2 linked regions of the Homo sapiens genome follow. The protein of the gene in region 1 interacts with the protein of each later gene in a biochemical or structural test. Each region holds a gene or a part of one and is shown in the gene's direction. Other genes may lie near its edges.

Region 1 (7,000 bases):
ACACACAGACAGAGAGAACTAGGCCGGTTCACTCCTGAGATAAAGCAAGAATGGATCTCTCTGGCTGAAATAAAGATTCTTCTGATAAATTAAGACTAGAGTGGGAATGTGGGCCTGAAAAATACCTAGGCTTGCCTAATTTTGCCTATGGGACCCCACTGCAAGAAGGAAAGGAACTAAAGTGTTCATCTCTCAGCTATGACTCCAAATCTTGGCCCCAAAATTTGCTTGACCACCAAATGGCTCCTCTCAGGTAGCAGGGATGCACAGAGTAGTATGACTTTGGAAGTCAGTGGCAGTCATTGGGTTGGAGTTGGGGCCAAATGTTATTGCCTCTACATGGCCCTATCAGCATATCCCTGGGGAAAAGAGTGAGGCGATGGATCCCGGTTCCAGGAATACATTGGAATTCCATTTTAGTTAAAAGAAATTGTTATTTTTTTCTGATAAAGGAAAAATAGGGACAATAAATATAACATTTTTAACATTTTAAAGAATGTCTGCTCTGTGAGGGCTCTGTTTGCTGTTTATTTTTCTAAATTGTTCACAGCTTGATAGCAAAAATCTAAATTTCTTTTCAATGCCCTTTAAAATTAGATTCAACTCTATTCCTTTGAGCAGCATCCCCAGTGTGATTCAACTGTAGAGGATCACTTGGTTTATAACAAGCAGATTTATCTTTACTTTATCTTACAAAAGACAAGTTGTTTTTAAGTTATTGTAACTCCAAGGAAATGTTTGCAATTACTTGTCTTAAAATGCCAGTGAAACATTCATTTCCCAGAGTTTAAGTCCATCTGAGATCTTTAGGGCACAAAGTGAGCAGTGATTCCAGTTACTGATAGGCAAAAGGGCATAACCCCTGGCCACCACCAGTAACACCCACTTTGACCACAGTTGCACAGTTGCCTGAGGGGTTAGGAAACGCCTAATCCTAGCACCAGCATTAGCATAGAGTCCTTAAAAATCATAAAGCAATAAACACCATTAGTGTGGGTTTTACTGCCAAGGTATTAGCCACACTGGGAACTTCATACTGAGAGCCAAGAGCTGGTATCAAATATTTTGCATAGATCTTAAGGTTGTTCAGCAGCCACTTCAAAGAGACTGGTCTGCTTCGCCAGTAGTGAGATGACATCTACTATAGTAATGGTCATCTGCTGTGCCCATTAGAGAGTCAGAGTTTAGGGTATCATTCCCCCACCCCTAACACACACAAACACACATTTCTGTCCTTATTGCCAGGACATCATACTAAACAGAAAAAGGAACAAAGATGTGGAAGACATTGGGAAGTAAAGGTGAGGCCCTGGCTGAAACCTGCTCCCAACCAGAGCATATCCTCAGCCCCACTAAAAAGCATTTCCAGAATCCTGATGGGAAAATGCAGCCAGTGCAACAAGACCCTGGTGCTGCTGAACAAATGTCTCCTTGCCATCATTTCTCTATATATTATCAAATAACCATATTTTAATCTTGCTTTCATTTTTTGACCTTAAAATGTTAACATTATTTTTAACTCATATGCTTGATTCTTGAAAGGATAATGATAAACCTACTCAATCATGTGGGTGTTGTTACCAAACTATGTAATATATGTTGAGTGCATCCTTCCAGAGACAGACAAATCTCACCAATGCAACAGTTCAGAAAAGTTTGTTAAAGCTGTTAATGAAAAAGTATTTAGTAAAGTAGTTGGTGCTTAACACTATAGACATTTGAGTTTTTGCTCAGAAACTGTAGTTTCATGTTTTTTATTTTTGTTTTGTTTTGTTTTGTTTTTGAGAAAGGGTTTTACTCTGTCACCCAGGCTGGAGTGCAGTGGTGCGATCTTGGCTCACTGCAACCTCCACCTCCCAGGCTCAGGCAATTTTCCTGCCTCAGCCTCCTGAGTAGCTAGGATTACAGGCGTATGCCACTACCACCCAGCTAATTTTTGTCTTTTTAGTAGAGACGAGGTTTCACCCTGTTGGCCAGGCTGGTTTTGAACTCCTGACCTCAGATGATCCACCTGCCTCAGCCTCCCAAAGTGTTGGGATTACAAGTGTGAGCCACTGCAACCAGCCTGTAGTTTCATGTTCTAAGCCCTGAACGGAAGTATAATTTTCTGTTTGCCTTTCTAACCTGCTGGCATCAGGCTGCATGCCCAATGAGCAAAAGTTGAAAGACAACAGCCAGGTGCCTGAAGTTGGGTGATTGCCTCTGCTCCAGAAACCCTTAGAGCAGCACTGACCCTCCCAGCTCCCATGCTTCCCCAGGTACTCTGTGCTCTCCCACAGTGTACCCCCAGGTGCTCCGTGGTTCCTCCCCACCAATGCTTCCCCAAGTGTTCTGTCTGTGTCCCCACCCAACCCCGCCAACTCTTTCTCTCTCTCTCACTCTCTCTCTCTTTCCTGCCTCCTCATGCTTCCTTAGGTGTTCTGTGTTCTCTGTCCTGCCCACACCCACCTCAGCCTCGCCTGTAGTTTCAAAGTATTTTCAGAAAGAAAACCCTCATTTTATACCATGACTTGGAGAAGAAGAGGAGGCTCTAAACTTGAACTATTTCTTCACATGAATTAAGCGACAGTTCCTTCTTTCAAATGTGCCAGGTTTTGGGGTTTCTATTGACCATTGCACAGTAGAATTACAGGGAATTGTTGCCAATAAGGCAGAGTCTTGTGTATAAAGAAAAAATGTCCATGTTATGAGAAGCCAGAATGATCACATCTTCCCAGTGTCTAAGCACAATTTAGCAAAGTCTTTATAGAGGCTGGCAGAGTTCCCAAGATGGATGCACAAATGGGGTGTCTTTTCATAAGCTCCTTACACTGGGAAAAGGAGAAAGCAGATTGCACCACAAGAAGACAGTGAAACAGTTTAGTTAGTGTCAAAGTATGATATGTTGAGACATAAAAAAGGCAGGGAAGACCCTCGTACTCTCTTAAATCACTATTCCAGGGAGGCAGGAAATGAATGTGTGGAGTTTGTGAACACCCATGAACCAACAGTAGGAAGACAACAGGAAGAGAACTGCCTTGGACACCAAAATCTTCCCACCAGACCATTTGCTTTCAACAAGCCGCTCCTGATTTAAGGATAGTCAGAAAACCTAAGGACAACTCACTTCTCCACCCCCACCCTCCTTTCCTTATTCCCCAGAGATCCAGTTTTGAATTGTGTGACCTCAAAGCACATACATGTTCTATTAATGTCATATTTGCACCACACGTCTGCCACCACTAGAGGCATCTTTGTACTTTAAAAGAACAGAGCCTGCCTGTATCTCTTAAGGCTGGAGTTTCAAAGAAGCAATAGGTTAGTTGAGTTTAAAAATACCAAATAGAGACTTTACACAGCCACTTTCCAGTGCCTTCATCAAGTATCCTTCCCCCGGCCAGTCACTGGTGCTCTTCGTTCCCACGCTGAGGACAGCGCGGATGGACAATCTTCCTAATGCCACATCCCTGGATGGCCGGGCCACTCTGCAAATATTTTCAGCTCTAAGCCACACATTTTGCTCTGCCAGGATAAGGCCTGATTCCTTCACTCAGGGAGATCATAATCAAGAGAGAATGAAAATAGGATTCAAGTAAAACATGGCAAGCTCTGTGAAAAAGGCCTAAGAGCTTCATGAAAATAGTAATCCCCAATAGCACCTTTGTACTCCACGTGTACTCCCAGTGTCTTGCTTGGTGCCTGGTGCATGATAGAGACTTCATAGATATTTGGAGAGAGGTGAAGCTAGAGAGAGGAAAAGTGGAAGAAGAGAGAAAAATATGAATAAAAAAAGGACTGAGCCTGTCTTCCCACAGCGGGGAAAAATGGTGTGTTCTTTATCAATATTGGCCTTCTGGTCACAAGTCCACCTACCCACAGTGAGTTTCCATTTGGGCACTTCAAATACAAGTTTTCATGCCTTGAACCAAAATCCATTTCTTAGTAGATGAGACTTATAGATGTGCTCTCAGTCAAAACTCTGAGGGAGATCACAGAAAATAGCAAGGTTTCCCTGTTTTGGTTATCAGCGGAAATGTCGTGCGTGCCGTGGACCATTCTACATGGATGCTGTAAGTTGCAGTCTGGTCACCATGGACTGTGGAAATCTGCAATCCATGCCTAGAAGAGTCAGCAAGTTAGAACACTTGAAAAACTGTTATTTAAATTTAAGCTTTTTTTCTTTCCAATTTTGGTCACTCAGAATGTGATTTCATATCCAAAAATGAAATAGAGGAGTAGCAAATTATCTGAATAATTCATGCCAGAATTACCCAAACACTTTCGTTCTTTGAATACTGTTAATTTGGGACTAGGTAATTGAAGGGTTCAGGGAGGATTGAATTATCCTGATATTTTTCAGATAAATGCCTCAAGTTAATATTTTACTTGGTACAGACTTAGCTCTAATCATAAGGGGTTTTGTCCTGCAGAAAGAGTGCTCATTTTAGTGTTTTTGACCACAGCACCTCTTATATTAAAGCAGAAATGCCCATCAAAGTCTAAACTTTATTATCTTTAGACTATGACCAAAACCTTCTTTTAAGTGTTCTATTTTAATTTATTGTTAAAGTGATATAGATACTTATAAGAGTAATACTAGCATTATAATAAAGACTGGATGTGCCCTGTGCCAAACCCACCCCCTTCCCTAGCCTCACTCTTTTGAATCGACCATTCACTTTTCCTTCAGGTGTTTTCTCTAGTATTCTCTATTTCTAAGTAACATGCTCATACAGATTTTCAGTTTCAAATAGTATCCCTGTTATCTACTGGCATTCTACTATAGAAAATCAAAATGATAGCACTTATAAACACTTATAAAGCACGTACAGTATCCCAGAGAATATTTCAGGTGCTTTACACATATGTACTATTTTAATCTTCTCAATGACACTATGTGGCAGATACTTTTTTTTTTTTTTAAGAAACAGGGTCTTGCTCAGTCACCTAGGCTGCAGTGCAGTCGTGTGATCTTGGCTCACAGCATCCTCTAACTTCTGGGCTCAAGAGATCCTCCCACTTCAGCCTCCTGAGCAGCTAGAACTACCAGCATGTGCCACCCCACCCAGCCAAGCAGATACTATTATTATCCTAATTTTGCGTATTGGAAACTGAGACATAGAATGATTACATATCTTGCCCAAGATTACATAGTAATGATGGCAATAAATTGTGGAGCCAGGATTTGAACTCAGTCTGGCTCCTAAATCCGTATTTTTAACAATGATCCAAATGTGTCTAGCTCCATTTTAGCATCCAACAATCCAACACTGCACCTGTTCTCTCTTGTTCTGTCTCTCTCTTTCCCTCTCTTTCCTATCTCTCACACACGCACCTACACACATGCACACATTCCTGCTTCCTCTTCCTCCCACCCCCATGAATATAGTTGTATCACTCTCAAGAGCTAAATCAGTATTCAGTGTTAATTATCATTATGGTTATTTAAATATTAATCACAAGGACTCATTATGTTGTCCTATGTTATATTTTCTTTCTCATACAATTTTATGTTTGCCATGGAAATAATTTTGGTTTCTTAATTTACAATGCGTTTCTAAACACTCTGCTGAAGACCAAACCATCTTTTAGCACCCTCAGACAGCTCAGGTGTTTGTCAGTTACTCTCTGTTCATGGAGACCCCTCCTCCTGCCCCCATCTTCACTGCTGCCTCCTGGCACTGCCACACAGCTATCATCCTGGAGTCTCTCATGCACATCATCCTGGGAATTCCTTGTGCTTCTCTCCTGTTTAGACTCTGTTTCCTGAACCTGTCTTTTCCTTTCTATTTTGTTTATTCTCATGCTTCAGTCATATATCTTCCCACCCAAGGAAGGTAAACAGTTGCTAATTTTTTTGAGACCCTGACAGTCTGAAAATATCTTCAATTTACCAGATTGAGTGTTTGACTCAGTATAGGATTCTAGGTGGGAAATTATTCTCTTTCAGAATCTTGAACACATCATTTCATTTTCTTTTGCTTCTAATGTGTCTGTTGAGAAGCCCTATTCTTCTCTGCCAATGGCTTGGAAGATTTTATGATTTCTTCTTTATCTCCAATATTTTGATTTTTTGATGCTTTGCCATGATGTGGGTCTGTTTTCATTCCTGGGCTGTGGGCACTCAGCAAGCTTTTTCAATCTGGAACCCTCAGTACTTCAGTTCTGGGAAATGTTTTGTACAATTTCTTTGAAAATTTTCTCTTCTCCAATTTCTCTGTTCCCTCTTTTGAAAATCCTCTTATTCTAATGTTAGACACACTGGACTGATCCTCAGATTTTCTAATGATTCTTCTCTATTTTTCCATACTTTGACTTTTTCTAGTTTGAATCTCTAATATATCTACTGAAACTTGCCTTTCAATCTTGCTATTGAATTTTTTATTTCTGTTATAATAATATTAATTTCCAACATCACTTTACTGGTCTTCTCTTTGTTCCTTTTTTATAGCTGTTTTTTTTTTTTTTTCTTTTTCTTTTTGAGACAGAGTCTTGCTCTGTCACCCAGGCTGGAATGCAATGGTGTGATCTTGGCTCACTGCAACCTCTGCCTCCTGGGTTCAAGTGATTCTTATGCCTCAGCCTCCATAACTGGGACTACAGCCACCACACCTGGCTAATTTTTGTATTTTTGGTAGAGACAGGGTTTCGCCATGTTGGCCAAGCTGGTCTCGAACTCCTGACCTCAACTGATCTACCTGCCTCAGCCTCCCAAAATGTTGGGATTACAGGCATGAGCCACCATGCCCGGCTTTTATAGAGTTTTATGTGCAAATCTTATTTAAATTTTTGCAGTCAAATACAAATGCGTATCTTTATCTTCCTTTTTACAATAAAGGTGTCGCACTGTACACACAGTTTTGTTTCTTGCTTTTTTTTATCTGACACGTTGGAGGACTTTATGTGTTAGTATATAGAGAGCTTCTTCATTCTTTAACATAGTTGCTATCATCTTCAGAAGTACACGGTGCTTCTAATTCCTGCATCTGGTAGTGCAAATCAGTTAGTTGGATTCCCTGAC
Region 2 (7,577 bases), on another chromosome or scaffold:
ACTTAGGCTGTGACACCAGGGAAGGGGCCAGGGGTAGGTTTAAGAGAAGAGCATGAGCTCTGGAGCCAGCCTGCCGGATGGTCCAAATCCCAGCTCTGCCACTTAGCTACGTAACTTTCAGCAAATTACTTAAACTCTTGTGCCTCAGATCCTAATTTGGGAGCTTTAGGGATTCTTGATGATAAACTAAGTGGCTTAATACTTATAAAGCAATCAGAATAGTGCCTGTCATATAGTATATGTACTCAATAAAAAGTATATATAGTATGTGTACTCAATAAAGTGAACATATAGTGTACTATATATAGTATATATAGTATGTATGCAATAAAGAGTAGTTCTCGGCTGGGCACGTGGCTCATGCCTGCAATCCCAGCACTTTGTAAGGCTGAGCTGGGCAGATTACTTAAGCCCAGGAGTTCAAGACCCACCTGAGCGACATGGCAAAACCTCGTCTCTACAAAAAATACAAAAATTAGCCAGGCATGGTGGCATGTGCCTGAAGTCCCAGCTACTCATGAGGCTGAGGGGGGAAGATTGTTTAAGCCCAGGAGGTGGAGGTTGCAATGAGCCAATATTGAGCCACTGGGTGACAGAGTAAGACTCTGTCTCAAAAAAAAAGTAGTTCTCTTTCTCTTTACTTGCCACTTTTATTCCATTCCATGCAAGTATGACTGATTATACCTCTAAAACCAAAACCAAAACCAAAACCATCCACTTCTGTCTCCACAGTCTCCACCTTGGTTCAAAGAACTATGACATCTTTATTGGATTCCTGGAATAGCCTCTTAACTGGTCTCCCTACTTCCACTCTTGCTCTGCCTTAATCTGATCCACAGAACAGCCTGAGTGATCCTTTTCAAAGACAAATCAGATGTCACGCTGCTTAAACATCTATTGTCTCATCACACTTCATACCAATCATTTAGAATTCTCCTTACCATACCTAAAAAGGTATTAAATCATCCAGCTGCCTCCTACTTTTCTGACCACCCCCCGTCCCCTGGCCCACGTCATACTCCCCTCCCTTTTGCTATGTTCAGCCTCTAGCTGCCTTGAATTTGACAAGTGTTTCTGGCTAAGACCTTTGCGTCTGCTGTTCCTCCGTCTTCCCCACCTCCTAACTAGTTTGCCTTCTTCTTGTCTTATAGAATCCAGCTCAAATGTCAGAAGAATTGACGTTAGTTTGAGAGACCAAACTAAGTTACAGCCTCTTTGGTTTCTGTTACTCTGGTAAGTGTATTTCCTTTTCATTATTTTTCCTTCTTTATTCCTCATCCCCCAATGTAAGCACCATGCAAACGGATATGTAGGCTTTTTCATTGCTATAGTCTCAGTGCCTGTAATGGCAAACACCCCATCCCCAATATAGTAAGCATTCAAATGTTTATCGAATTGATGTTAAATGAATTAGAAGAGAGGAGGGAAACAAAAGAGAATACTGCCAAAAATTAAGGCACCTGGGGCCAATTAGGCTTTTGCAGTATTCCAGTGGGAAATGATGAGGCCCTGGCAGTGGTTTCCAACCTTGGTCATGCATTGCAATTACCTGGAAAGAGGTTATGTATTTATTTTTGTTGTTGTTGTTGTTTTGTTTTGTTTGAGACAGAGTCTCGCTCTATTGCCCAGGCTGGAGTGCAGTGGCACAATCTCAGCTCGCTGCAACCTCTGCCTCCCAGGTTCAAGCGACTCATGCCTCAGTCTCCTGAGGAGCTGGGATTACAGGAGTGTGCCACCATGCCCAGCCAATTTTTGTATTTTTTATAGAGATGAGGTTTCATCATGTTGTCCCGGCTGGTATCAAACTCCTGGCCTCAAGTGATCCACTCACCTAAGCCTCCCAAAGTGCCGGGATTACAGGCGTGAGCCACTGCGCCCGGTTTTCTTTCTTTCTTTCTCTCCCTCCCTCCTTCCCTTCTTTCATTCTTTCTTGAGACAGGGTCTCACTCTGTCGCCCAGGCTGGAGGCCAGTGGTGTGACCAGGGCTCACTGCTGCCTTGACCTCCTAAGGCTATGGAGATGATCCTCCTGCCTCAGCCCCCTGGAGTAGCTGGGACTGCAGACGTGGGCCACCATGCCAGGCTAATTTTTGTATTTTCGCCATCTTGCTCAGGCTGGTCTTGAACTCCTGGACTCAAGTGATCCAACCACCTCTGCTTCTCAAAGTGCTAGGACTACAGGTGTGTGCCACCGTGCCCAGCACACTTGGGGAGTTTTAAAAACTACTGATGCCTGAGCACCACCCTCAGTGATTCTGATTTAATTGTTGGGTGCAACGTGGACATAAGAATATGCAGCCAAATTTGAAAACACTGCTCTAAAAGCAGAGGGAGATATAGAACAGAGAGCACAGGGATATTTCCGGGGTATAATAAACAGGACTTGGTGGTTAGTTATGAATTGGAAGGGACAAAAAGAATGGGGCCTGGGAACAATCCTAGGTTTCTGGCTTGTGTCTGGGTGAATGAAAGAAGCATGCTTTGAGGAAAGAACAAACTACATCTTGGACAGCCTGAATCTGAGGTGCCTCTAGGAATTCAAGTTGGGGATGTTCAATAGGTATTTGTTTTTTAATAGATTTATTTGGCCTAGTGAAGAATAGAAAGTCCTTCTAATTTTTAGGAAGACAAGAAAGCCAGAAGCAGCATCTCTGGAAAATATTACCGTTGTACAGAGTGTAAGACCATTTTCATTCCGCACAGCTTCTTTATTCAAAATCCCCTTTCAAGCCAGTGCCCCATCTGTGCTGAAATGTTGTTTAACATGTTGATCTATTTTCTTTTCTTTTTTTTTTTTTTTTTTTTTTGAGACGGAGTCTCGCTCTGTCGCCCAGGCTGGAGTGCAGTGGCGAGATCTCTGCTCACTACAAGCTCCGCCGCCCGGGTTCACGCCATCCTCCTGCCTCAGCCTCCCGAGTAGCTGGGACTACAGGCGCCCGCCACCACGCCCAGCTAATTTTTTGTATTTTTAGTAGAGACGGGGTTTCACTATGTTAGCCAGGATGGTCTCGATCTCCTGACCTCGTGATCCGCCCGCCTCGGCCTCCCAAAGTGCTAGGATTACAGGCGTGAGCCACCAATTCCGGCCAACATATTGATATATTTTCAAGAAGGATATTATATATGGGTACTTAACTTACTATTCTTGTGCTATCTGTAGGCTTAAAGCATCCCATATGTAAAGTCGCTGGCAGCCTTCAAGTAGCATTTAAAGGTATAACAGCTTTAAAACTTCCCATAAATGAAAATAAACATACCCATAATTACTTCCTTTAAGATTCGAGGCCAAAGACACTTAAACCTAAACTGCCTAGCTTGTTCAATTTTCTAATTGGTAAACATTTACTGGGTTACCAAAGATACCAAGTACATTCGGAAAGACCATGGCTCCTTGGTTTGTTTCTAATTTAAATTACACAGACACACTAAACAAGGACTGGGAGAGTGATATATTTAGTTAAGTAACAGATGGCAAATGGACATTCTGTCCAGCCTCTATCACATTCGTTTCTCAGTATTCTATGTTAGAGTGATCTAAATCTTGAAGAGAATAAACCAGGAGGAAATGCACCAGGCCCAGACGGAATTTGTTTATTCAACTAAGAATACCAAGACTAGTGTAGATTGAAACATTCAAAGGGGATATGACTGGCTGAAAAGATATGAGACGAAGGAACAAATAAAGCTGGATTAAAGTAATTAGGAATGTATTAGAGATGAAATAGGAATTCTGATTACTTGACTGCAAAATAGTAAAAAAAAAATGAAATAAAAGAGATGAATGGAAGATACTCTCCAAACCCTCACGTAGGCTTGCTATTGTGGCTAAGTACTGTTCCTAACAGCCTCTGCAAAGACAGGTGCACTAAGAGGGCGGCTGCAGACGCACAGGGTGCTGCCGTCCTCTGGGAAAGGACATTTCCTCGCCGAGAGCTGCAACATCCCGGCACTTCTCTCCCTCGGCCTGCCAATCTAGCAGGTGAACCCTGAGAACACAAAGGAATGAATAATGCCGGGCAAACTGCCAAGAGCCAGAGTCGCCGAGTCTGGCAACTCCCTTCAACCGGGCGCAGCTCCAGCCACCCCGACCTGTCCTTGGAGGAGACGCTCTCTGGGCCACGGAGAACCGGCCAGGGAGACACCGGCCCCACTGCCCGGCGCGCTCGAGGCGAAGTCCCCTCCGCCAGGGACAGGCGTGGGGGCCGCAGTCGGGGCCACCCGGGTGCAGCGGGGCGGCTCCTGCGCGGGCGCGGAACGAACGTGCGCAAGGGAACAGCCGCGTCCAGAGCCGCCCGCAGCGGGCCCGGTGGGCGTGACGCCATGACGCACAGCACGCGGGCGGCGCGCTGGGGCGGGGCGGCCGGGGGCGGGAGGAAGAAGTGGGAGGAGGAGGAGGGGAAAGCGGGGGCTGCGGGAGGGGGAGGTGGTAGTTGCGGCGCTGGTTCCCGGGAGCAGCCGTCGAGCCACAACTGCGGAGGAGGAGTTCGGGAAAGCGGCCGTCGGGACTCCTCCCCTCCGTCGTCTCCGCCCCGGTTGAGAGGCGCCTCGGCGCATCGGAGGGACCCTCCCCCGCGCTTCCTCAGGCTGCTGTCGCCGCTGCTGGGAGATGGGCCTACTCGCCCGCCACCCTGCGCTGCCGCCGCTCTGAGGAGTTAAAGGTACGGGCGGGCACCCGGAGGAGCTTGCGCCCCGGAGCGGGAGAGAAGGGGCGGCTCTCGCTTACGACCCAGGGAGCTCTGGCCGGGCCGCAGCCCTAGCGCCCCTGCCCGGGACAGAAATGGATTCGGAAGTCCGGTGGGAAAGGCGTCTCCTCCAGTGTCCAGCGTGGGCTCGGGGCCGTGGCCGGCTTAGGGGGTCAGGCCTCGGTCAGCTCCGGGTCCCCTACCCGGCCCAGGCGCGGGCGTCTCCCGGGCCGCGGGGGCCGAGGTGGAGCGTGGGATCCGCCCCAAGCCCTGTCCTCCTGGTGCCTGTGCGGCCGGCGGCCGGCCCGGCGATATTATGACGGGCCGAGGCGGCGCTCCCCTCGAGCTGTCTCCTGCCCCTAAAGCGGGGGAGACCCAAGGGCGGTTGCCGCGGGGAGGCGGCGGGGGCGGAACGCATTCCTGACGGGTGAAATCGGCTCTAACGGGACCGATTTCCGGGCCTCGCTGCAAATTTGGAGCCGGGACATCGCCCCGCAAGCCGTGCTGCCTGGGGCCTTAGGGAGGGGAGCTGTGTTCGGAGGAAGGTTAGTCCGGGACTGCTACCACCTCCTTCAAAAGCAAAAATTACACATCACACCAAAATGGTGTAGCCTTGGGGTGAAGTATGTGTTAACGGGGGTCTTCCGGGATTGTCTCCCCGTGCTAAGCCTTTAGGGTGTTCCCAGCCCTCGCCCGGCAAGTAATACTACTACTTTGAATTTTCAGTTTTTCTTATCTGGGTTCCACTCTGCAGTTGCTCTTTTTTTCCCATTTCCATTAATGGGAAGAAGAAAAAGAAGTTTAGGGTTCATTAACCCCGCGACAAGGGCAGTAAATAAAAAGAGGGAAGAGAGTGGTTAAGGCTATATATGGGAGAGAGAAACGTTTAATTTTTTCCCATTGACCCTTGGAGATATAAATACACGAACGATGCTTTACTCTGCTTAATGTTTACTGTCCACAGTGTTGCAGAATGTTCTGTTGGGGTGACGTTAGAAAAGACGGCGTTTAAGTGCCGTTGCAATTTTCAAACCTAGATGTTGGCTAGAAATGCTAATTTTAAGTGTTAGTAAACAGTAGAGGCTTAAAGCAGCCCTTTCCTTTGATCGGTTGTCTTAAATTGTGATCTTTACATTCCACATTTTTTTTTTTTAAAGAACATGGTTCTTTTCATTTTTTTAAAATATCTTTTCTTATTTTAACCTAGATTCATTGAGTTTTGGTTGTTTGAAGTCTGACGGTTTGCCTTAAGTTTTATTTTCAGTTTTGCCATTACCCGTCTTAATACACATTTTACCACTTCTGTTTATAATGCAAGCCATTACCCTGTTTGCCTGTTTTTGCTTCTTTAACACTGACTGAACTATCTGAATTGAGTTAAAATGTAAATACTTCTCTATTTAGAAAATGGCGATGATCGTATTTTCAAATGTTCTTTCCTTGTTACAGTTTCATGGTAAAAATTTAGAATTAAGTCTTGGGACTTAATAAACCAAATTATGCTAAAAAAACACTTTTAAAATTTGTTAGTTTAATGCCCTGCTTAATGTTCTCTTTTTTTAAATTACTGTATAAAATTTAACTGAAGTTTAAATTTTACGTGTCCATGGAAAATATTTTAATGTCATCGCAAGGTGTCTTTGAGGAAAAAATTACAGTTGGCAACTAATGTTAGTGTATTTTTTTCACTATCTTAGCTTCCAGGAGATTCCAGTAAGATTAATTTTTAAAACTGCAGCATCATTTTAGGAGTTGAAGCACAACCCAATTCTTAGTACCAAATAGTGGCCACTGGAAATTTTGTTTTCTCATTTAGGGGATGCCTCAGTTGATCAGTAGACTTAATATAAAGAACTGTCCATACTGTCAACCAGACAGTGTTGGGATTTTTAAACAAATTTTGGTGATTTCTTGAGTTTTTGATGTATTTTGCTTGACTGAAACTTATTTTCTGCCTAACACACGAGAGGTGCTAAGATTCCTATTTTTAAAGATACTTCATTCAAGAAAATGGATGAATAAATAAAATACTTAGCATCTTGGTGGAAAGTAAATGCACTTCCCAAATTTGAATGTAAGTGAAGTCGTAAAGCAGTATGTTTGCAGTTGAGGATGTAAGACACTTGGGTCACCTCTATTTTATTGGGGTTGGATTGAAGGATACTATTTGTTATGGGGTTGTTTAGAATTAAATATGGGTAATTAAAAGCAAACTTTTTGTTTTAACTATTTGAAATAATCACTTGTATATTATGGAAGATTCTGACACCCCCTCCCCACCACGGTTTTTTTTTTGTTGCGGCAGTTTGTATCTTGAACACTTATTTAGATTTATATAGAAATTTTTTGGTTTCAGATTATTTCTCCCCCTTCTCCAACACATATAGTTTGTTGTTGTTGTCGTTTTTAATCTACAGGGCACAGATGGTTGAGATATGTAGTTTTCTGTAATTTCCAAGTAGGGAAAAGAAGGCAAAATATTTGTGATAACATGTAAAAGTCCCTAGTCAAGTGCTGGGCGCAGAGTAAGCTGGAGATAAATTTTGTTATATTAATATTTACATCTGAATTGCTCACTTATATCTTCTCTACTCGGGTTATATAGGAAATCTTAGGGAATTGTTATTCGTTTTTCTAATGTCATTAATAAGTGAAAACTGACTGTCAAATGCAGGCTGGTTTTGTACTGAACTAATAAGCTTATGATCTTTTAACATTCTTTGCCAAGATAAAAATTAGGCCACCTTGGGCAAAAGCCCAAAGTAAAGTTGAATTTCTAAATTTACATTTCATTGCATATTGCATTGTATTTGGCAAACTAGCACATCATAGCAAAATGGTAGTTGAATTTAGATTGTCTGAAAGGACCCATGATTATATATGGAGTAGTACTTCA

What was found. Proteins that work in one complex are often made in the same cells at the same time.
Region 2: of the proteins of SNCAIP (region 1) and RNF19A, one has a biochemical effect on the other in vitro, tested with the Homo sapiens proteins (one study listed by BioGRID).

Annotation. Positions count from the first base shown.
Region 1 is NC_000005.10:122,455,237-122,462,236, forward strand, and holds part of SNCAIP (synphilin-1), read left to right. Parts: exon of another isoform or gene 1-1,245; coding exon of another isoform or gene 1,246-1,299; exon of another isoform or gene 1,300-4,098; intron 4,099-7,000. UniProt on the Homo sapiens protein: Isoform 2 inhibits the ubiquitin ligase activity of SIAH1 and inhibits proteasomal degradation of target proteins. Isoform 2 inhibits autoubiquitination and proteasomal degradation of SIAH1, and thereby increases cellular levels of SIAH.
Region 2 is NC_000008.11:100,306,947-100,314,523, reverse strand, and holds the start of RNF19A (E3 ubiquitin-protein ligase RNF19A), read left to right. Parts: upstream 1-4,570; 5' UTR 4,571-4,657; exon of another isoform or gene 4,658-5,226; intron 5,227-7,577. UniProt on the Homo sapiens protein: E3 ubiquitin-protein ligase which accepts ubiquitin from E2 ubiquitin-conjugating enzymes UBE2L3 and UBE2L6 in the form of a thioester and then directly transfers the ubiquitin to targeted substrates, such as SNCAIP or CASR.